2 linked regions of the Homo sapiens genome follow. The protein of the gene in region 2 purifies or fractionates together with the protein of the main gene of each other region. This does not show direct contact. Each region holds a gene or a part of one and is shown on either strand. Other genes may lie near its edges. The genes, in order: AKR1B1 and ASB5.

Region 1 (3,821 bases), on a different chromosome or scaffold from region 2:
TGGTCTTGATCTCCTGACCTCGTGATCCGCCCGCCTCAGCCTCCCAAAGTGCTGGGATTACAGGCGTGAGCCACCGCGCCCGGCCTGTTTGCTCTTCTTATCTCATTAAAGCCAGCCTGGCTTTCGTCTCACTGTCTCTTAGCTTCTGAAAGGTCTAATTCACTGGCACTGAAGAGTGAGGGCAGGACCCGTTAAACTGGTGCAAACGACACTTCTGATCCTGTCCTTTCTGGGTTCGTTTCTGCACCACACAGACACTTTTCTCTGTAGGCCATGGAAGAGCTGGTGGATGAAGGGCTGGTGAAAGCTATTGGCATCTCCAACTTCAACCATCTCCAGGTGGAGATGATCTTAAACAAACCTGGCTTGAAGTATAAGCCTGCAGTTAACCAGGTAAACATCCCCCAACGACACTGGCATTGCAACGTTGCTGTTTTACTGTCTGATGCTGGTAGGGATTTCTCGTCCACCTCACCCAGCAAGTGGCCAGGAGGCAGCTCCTGGGTGTTGGCAGAGTCCTGAGTTATGATTCAGCATGACACAGCACATCTGGGAGAGGAAACTTACAGGAAAGAAAGAGTTTGAGCCTGGCTTGTGACGATTTGGGGTCTGACAAAGAGGCAGCCATGAGATCCTCAGAACTGTGATAGTTGATAAGTGGCTAAAGCCAAGAAAAGCCTCTAGGGCCCATGAGAACATCTATAATAAGATAATAATAACACCAAGGATACTACCTGGGAACTGTAGGAAGTTACAGCTTATCTGGGAAATAGGGTGTTTGTTATACATAGTTTTCTGTATGGGGTAGGGAGGGACTTTAGCATAGGAAGCTTCATCTGTGTCCCATCAGCGTGTAGCCACAGTGCTCCCATCAGCTCTTGTTTTTGCATTTGCAGATTGAGTGCCACCCATATCTCACTCAGGAGAAGTTAATCCAGTACTGCCAGTCCAAAGGCATCGTGGTGACCGCCTACAGCCCCCTCGGCTCTCCTGACAGGCCCTGGTGAGCTTCCCACAGGCTCATGCTCCTGTGTCACTTGGTGAAGATTAGAAAAGACTAAAAAGAACAATTCAGCCTCAAGGAAGATGTTTCTGGGGGTGATCTGCAAAACTTCCCCTGAGCCTCTTGCTGGTTTTCCTGGAAGGGTTGGAGTTTCTAGTAGCAAGACACCTACTCTTTTTCCAAAGGGTTGGGGGTTCTTAACCCAGCTCTGAGGAGGAGACTGGTGGCTGCCCTCTGAGGTCGATGGGAGGATTAGGGTTGGGGTTTCTGGCTGCTGTGAGTGGTGGCCATGATGGTGTGACCTGGACTGTCTTTCTATCCTCAGGGCCAAGCCCGAGGACCCTTCTCTCCTGGAGGATCCCAGGATCAAGGCGATCGCAGCCAAGCACAATAAAACTACAGCCCAGGTACAGCCACTTCAGGTGTTGCTGACCGTCCACAACTGCCTGCATTCCTGACAGTCCTGTTAGCCAAGAGGAGGAAGTGACTGAGCCTGTTACACCCTCACAGGAAGTATGGTTAGGGGTCCTCAAGTACAGAGTGGAAAGGGCACAGATCGGGGTTTTAGAAGACTCTGGCATGGGCTCTTAGATTAATAGTGCCTGCCCCCACTACTGCAAGGGTGACTGCCACGAGGGCCAGCGCTTGTTCATTCATGTGGAACCTCATCTGTACAAATGTAAGAGCTCTTAGCCGTGCAGGGAATGTTCTTTCTCCTGAGTGGTAGTGTGCATTTCTAGCCAGTGGAGGGCCTCATGTGGTCTCATGATATGCCTGAGACACTGAAGCGTGTGGCACAGTGGCTAGCGCAGGACTCTGGAGTCAGATCTGGACCTGAATGCGTCGCCTACCTGTTGCTAGCTGTGACCTGACATCTTGGAGCCCCTCTCTGATCACCTGTGGAGTTCTAGCACGTCCTTCTGCAGGTTGTGTGTGTGAGAGACTGAGATGATGGGTGCGAGTGCCTGGCATGTATACACACTCACTGTCTCCTTGGGCTCACAGGTCCTGATCCGGTTCCCCATGCAGAGGAACTTGGTGGTGATCCCCAAGTCTGTGACACCAGAACGCATTGCTGAGAACTTTAAGGTAAGATCTTGGCTGGTCAGGCCTGGCCCTCCTCCATGGAGTGGGGGATGGGGGAGGCCTCTCATCCTGTCTCTGGAGTGTCATCTGTGGGATCACCACCATCCTCTCTTCTGAGGCCAGGGAGCTGTGGCGAGCAAGCCAAGACTGAGACTGACACCTCACCAGTGGAGCCGTGTGCAGGGGCAGGCCTTGGGCCTCCAGGGCCCCGTGCTGTGCACGCATACACCTACACCTTTGCTCAGGCCCTTCAGCCACACCGAGAGGTTACCCGGGGAGAATCTCGCTCTTGAGCTTCACTGCCTGGACCTGCCCTGCACTGGAGCTCTGTCAGCTACCAGCTGCATAACCCTGGGCAAGTCGCTTAACTGCTCGATGCCTCAGCTTCCCTATCTATAAAATAATATCCATTTTGAGGGTTGTTACGAAGATTAAGTGATGCATCAGAGCACTTCACATGGTGCTTAATACCTTAGTAAGTGATCGAGAAATGTTGCTGTGCTGATAAGTCCAGGGACTGCAAAGGACCCTCTGGGCCATTTAGTCCATTCACCAGCTCTGCAAGGAGTTCGTGTGATGATGGGCAGAGCCTAGACCTGTGTCAGGACTCTGGCGAAGCGCTCAGTGTGGCAGCTGGAGCAGCTCAGGCTACTTGGCGCCACCTCCCTCCCTGCCTGCCCTTGCAGCATTGGTGGCGGGGGTGTGGGGGAGGGGGGGGGCACGCCCAAAGGAGAGCAGCTCAGGGGAGTCCTGATGGCCCAAGAGCCTCTGTTCTCACTGAGCAAAGTGGCTCTGCCAGGGATGCTCTGTCTTTATCCAAGATCTGTGCCGAGCGCAGCACAGCCATGGGCCTGGGGCTCTTGGGCAGGCCCCAGCTTAGGTGAGCAGCTGATTTTGCCCAATTCCACTGCCCAAAGACTGTGGCCATAGTGCCTGCCACCTGTCACATATGAGACAGGGATGAGAGTGATCCCTGAAGAGGGAAGTGGAGCTCATTGTTTAGGAGAGGAGACGTTTTTCTTCTTACGTGCAGGTAGATGTTCTAAGTACACAAGATAAAATGGCAAAACAGTGGCCACTGAGGGAAAGGCATATCCCACCAGAGATGCATCGTTTGTTTCGTATTTCATTTTTTAAGGAATTAGGAAAGAAAAAATAAATGACTAATCTCAAAATGCTAACCTAATTATTTTATTTTTGCATCTTACTGTATAGCTTTTGCACATTTTTCTGTGATCATAACCACAGAGCCTGTAGCAGACTCTCTTTCTGCACATTCTGTGATCATCTGAAGCTAAGAGCCCTTCGGCTCTGGGAGTGTGTGTCAGCCTCTTGTGGGTCTCACCCAGTGGTGCCTGCCTGCCTCCCTCCCTCCCAGCCTCCATGCCAGCTGAGTTCTGTACCGTCTGCTGCCTTCATGCAGGTGGTTCTCTTCTCCCAGTATACCTTTCTTGCCCTCTCTGTCAAAATCTTATACTTCTTAGGCCATGTCAAATACCATCTCCTCTTCGGCTGTGGTTGTTCAGTTTCCCGGCTGGAATCCCTTTGGAATACCTCTGCCCTTCCTGTGCTGTTGAGTGTCTTATACAGTGTGTGATTAGTTATTTGTATTACAGTTGTAGAAATACCTCTGCCCTTTGTTTGCTTCATAAAATAGAGGCAAAGACACATCTTACCCATAATTATATTCCTCACTGCAACTTATCACAATAGAAGTGCTCAGTAGTGTTTT
Region 2 (3,821 bases):
TTATTTATGTATCTACCAGGTCAAAGGCATTGTGCTAGGCCCTAAGGATAAACTATAGAAACTAACCACTGTCTTTCCCAACAGTGTACACAGTTTAGTGGAAGAAAGATGGATAGGCAAGTAATTTTAAAACATGGAAATTGCTATTTTACAAGATTAAAGAAGGTGCTATGGGAAGGTGCTATACAGAGAAATGTATGTAGAGCTAAGAATGGTTCTGCCTAGGATATGCCAGTTACACAGAAGCCATACTAACAATACACACATTCTCTCACACAACTAAGCATGCATCCTTATTCACAATGCTCAAAAACTTGCCAAGTCCCCACCTTCACTTCCTACCAACTTTTTCACTTCTCAATTTGTTATTTCTGACTCATATATCTCTTACCTAAAGCTTTATCTTAGGCTCAGAGTTCTGTTGTTAAAAGAATTTATTTTTAGGAAGGACACAAGTATGCTTTGTGAAAAATGGAAAATATTTTGATGAAAAAATTTCAAAATGGATTTTGTGTACTTTGATAGGGGACGTTGATATTGTCAACGTTTTAAAATTTTTTACATAGTAAAGATAGAAAAGGAATGAAAACTAGGTCTTAACTTTCTGCTTCTCAATTTACTATCTCTTTTAGAAGACAGTGAATTATTAAAATAAGCTATTTTTCTTATTCATTGCCATAACTGCTATAGCTTTGAATGTAGCTTAGTTGAATAAATACTGGGATATCTACTCTCTTCCTGGCACAATGTTGTGTACTACATGCACATATACCAACATATCTGTAATATATATAGTATTTAATAACTATAATATGTAATACATAACTAATATATAATATAAAATGCATACTATATCATGTATATAATTTCTGTATTATATATATGTATATGTTTGCCATGTGTGATATATGAGTAAAAGCAGAAGGCTTGGATGAGCGGAGCCAAACATTGCAGAAGTAAGACAACCTAAACAGCAAGGAGGTAGAAAACCATATGGCGCTAAAAGGAAAACAGTCAAGTTTTGCAATTGATGTTCTCCTCTAAGTCAGAAAGGGAAGAGATTGAGGTCATCTGAGACTGTAAGCACTTCATAAATAAAGCAGAGCTTAAGGCAGAAATCCAAAGGCAGAACATATTTGGTTATGTAGATGTGGAGATGAAACCAAGCTAAATATAAAGAAAAAAAGAGGAAAAGTTTAGAATGTGGAGCCAAACAAGGCTGTCTCATCTGGAGCAAAGGTGGAAGTATAAATGTCAGGGATGAAGAAACGTAAGTTGAGTGGTTGATGCTAATGGGAAAAATAAACACACATTTCGAAGCATATATCTAAAAGTCAGAAGTTCTGTTAAGAACTTTCTAATACCTTTACAGGATTCAGCATATGAAAAAGGGTCGCTAGCTAATGACGGAAATAATTACCACCATAAATATTTTACAAAATACTTGGTATAATGATTTAATATGTCATTATGTGTGTTTCATGAAGTACATCTCAGAGAAGATGGAATACCTCCCCAACACTGACTCAGCACTGCGCATCCTCAGAGTGGTTCCATGGTAATTCTGTGGACTTGGGCAACAATTTTAGCAATTAAGCCCATTTTCTAAACTGCAGAGGAGAGAAGAACAATTATCCCCAGTGACAGATAAACCATGCCATTAAAAGCAGGTGAAGTATTTGGAACACCTCTTCCTCCAAAGCCACCCTCAAATAATTTTTAAAAATTAAAAAGACAGAAAGCATTTGCTTACTAGTGATGTAGAACTTTTCGCATTTCTTGCCGACGTGGTGGCTCACGCCTGTAACCCCAGCACTATGGGAGGCTGAGGTAGGTGGATCACGAGGTCAGGAGATTGAGACCATCTTGGCCAGCAAGGTGAAACCCCATCTCTACTAAAAATACAAGAATTAGCTGGGTGTTGCAGCACGTGCCTGTAATCCCAGCTACTCGGGAGGCTGAGGAAGGAGAATCCTTGAACCTGGGAGGCGGAAGTTGCAGTGAGCCGAGATTGCGCCACTGAACTCTAGCCTGGCAACAGAGCTAGACTCCGTCTCAAAAAAACAAAACAAACAAACAAAAACAAACAACAGCAACAACAAAACAAAACATTATCAGCTGCATAGGGAACAAGTCATTTATTCTTTCCAGCCTTCCCTCAGCAATGCTACAAAGCAGACCATTGGCTTTTTAGACTGGAAATGCCCAAAGAATATCATGTCAGGGAGGGAGAGGCTTAAGGAGTATCATAAATTGTTAAATGAATACTGAAAGAATCTTCCAGGTGGTCTGTGATTAAACAAGTCCACTCTGTGAAATTTAGGTTAAAGGTGAACATTTATTAGATGATTTTTTTTCTCAATCCTCATTCTACAATTCCTCATTGGTTACCATGGAAAAGGATTTTAAAAATCTGTCTTATAGATTTAAGATAGATTAATATCCCATATTTAAGGTAGATTTAAGATTTTTCTAGAAGGCCGTCAGGGGCTCAGAAGCTAGGGTGGTGTGAGGGGGCAAGGTCCCCATGGGTCCCCTTCCCCCTTTCGAACAGAACAACTCTACTTTCATAAATCTTCATAAGTTGGGCTTTAAAATAGTAATAATTTTTTCTTCAAAGAAAGGGATAAAATAATATTTAAAACTAGACTGTCCCAGTTTATGGAAAATATTATTTGTTACACATATCTTTACAGAACCTAACCATCTGATAATATGAGTCATAGCTGAATATCCTTTCGAAATTCTTTCCTAGGGATTAGATGAGCAGCAAACATTTGGGGCCTGTCAGGCATGTACATAACTATGTGAAATGTCAGGAAGGCATCCTCTCTCTATCAGGGCAGCTAAAATTTCCATGCCACCGGTACCCACTGAGTAAAATAGAAACCTTCAGAAATACACATACTCTTTCCAGAAGGCTTATAGTCTTAAACTATGGGTAGAGTACAAACAAACTGAAATTTAACACCAAAATGCCATTCATGTTTTTAAATAGAAGCACTGGCTCACCTCAGCTGTCAAGTGTGCAGTGTGATTTAAATGAAAGCTGACAATGATAAAATTTAAGTGAAGGCCCATCCATTGGAAATCTGCTCTTCACCATCATAATGCCGCAAAGTCCCTTGTGAATTAAATCAGGTAAGGCTGTCAAAGTGAGAAAGGAAGCAATCCTTCTTCTAAAGCAGTCTCAAGACTTCTTCTAAAGCAGACTCAATGCACTACAAGAGCTGTTAAATAATGACCATGGAAACAGCGGTGACTTTGGTAGTGACTCAACCCCTCAGTAGCAACCAAATACATCTTTGATTAGCCACTGAGGAGATTTATGTGCACTTATGTTTTCCAAATTCTACTTCATTCACTAGAGAAATGGTGTTTCCGTCATTCATCAAGTAAAAGTAATAGTTCATTTTTAGAATGAAATGATGCACCTAATGAATTCTTGAATTTGGAAGTTTTGTGTCTTACTTCCATCTTGACCTGTGATCTAGAATCATGAATTTGGAAAAGGAAAAAGTGCTAATTCTTTAGAGCTCAAATACACAGGTCGCAGATCTGTTGCATCCAGGAAAGAATAAATACTTCATTGTAACTCCAAGAACTAAAAGAAAAGGAGTGAAATGAAACTGTAAGCATCTCTCTCCTTCTCTCTCTCTCCCACCCACCATAGTTATGATGAAAATGCTCAAGTAGAATCTAGTATAGGGGCTAAGTTTTCTGGCTACTTACCATTACTCAAATAAACCAACAAAACAAGACTGGCTCTGGCTGGAGAAAAAAAACCTTTACTGAACATTAAGTCCCAAAACAATAGTTGC

Evidence for each region.
Region 1: the proteins of ASB5 (region 2) and AKR1B1 purify together in Homo sapiens (affinity purification with mass spectrometry, with the first as the bait; one large-scale study listed by BioGRID). This does not show direct contact.

What each region holds. Positions count from the first base shown.
Region 1 is NC_000007.14:134,445,569-134,449,389, reverse strand, and holds part of AKR1B1 (aldo-keto reductase family 1 member B1), read left to right. Parts: intron 1-270; coding exon 271-393; intron 394-896; coding exon 897-1,003; intron 1,004-1,328; coding exon 1,329-1,410; exon of another isoform or gene 1,411-2,008; coding exon 2,009-2,092; intron 2,093-3,821. UniProt on the Homo sapiens protein: Catalyzes the NADPH-dependent reduction of a wide variety of carbonyl-containing compounds to their corresponding alcohols.
Region 2 is NC_000004.12:176,258,933-176,262,753, reverse strand, and holds part of ASB5 (ankyrin repeat and SOCS box protein 5), read left to right. Parts: intron 1-3,821. UniProt on the Homo sapiens protein: May be a substrate-recognition component of a SCF-like ECS (Elongin-Cullin-SOCS-box protein) E3 ubiquitin-protein ligase complex which mediates the ubiquitination and subsequent proteasomal degradation of target proteins.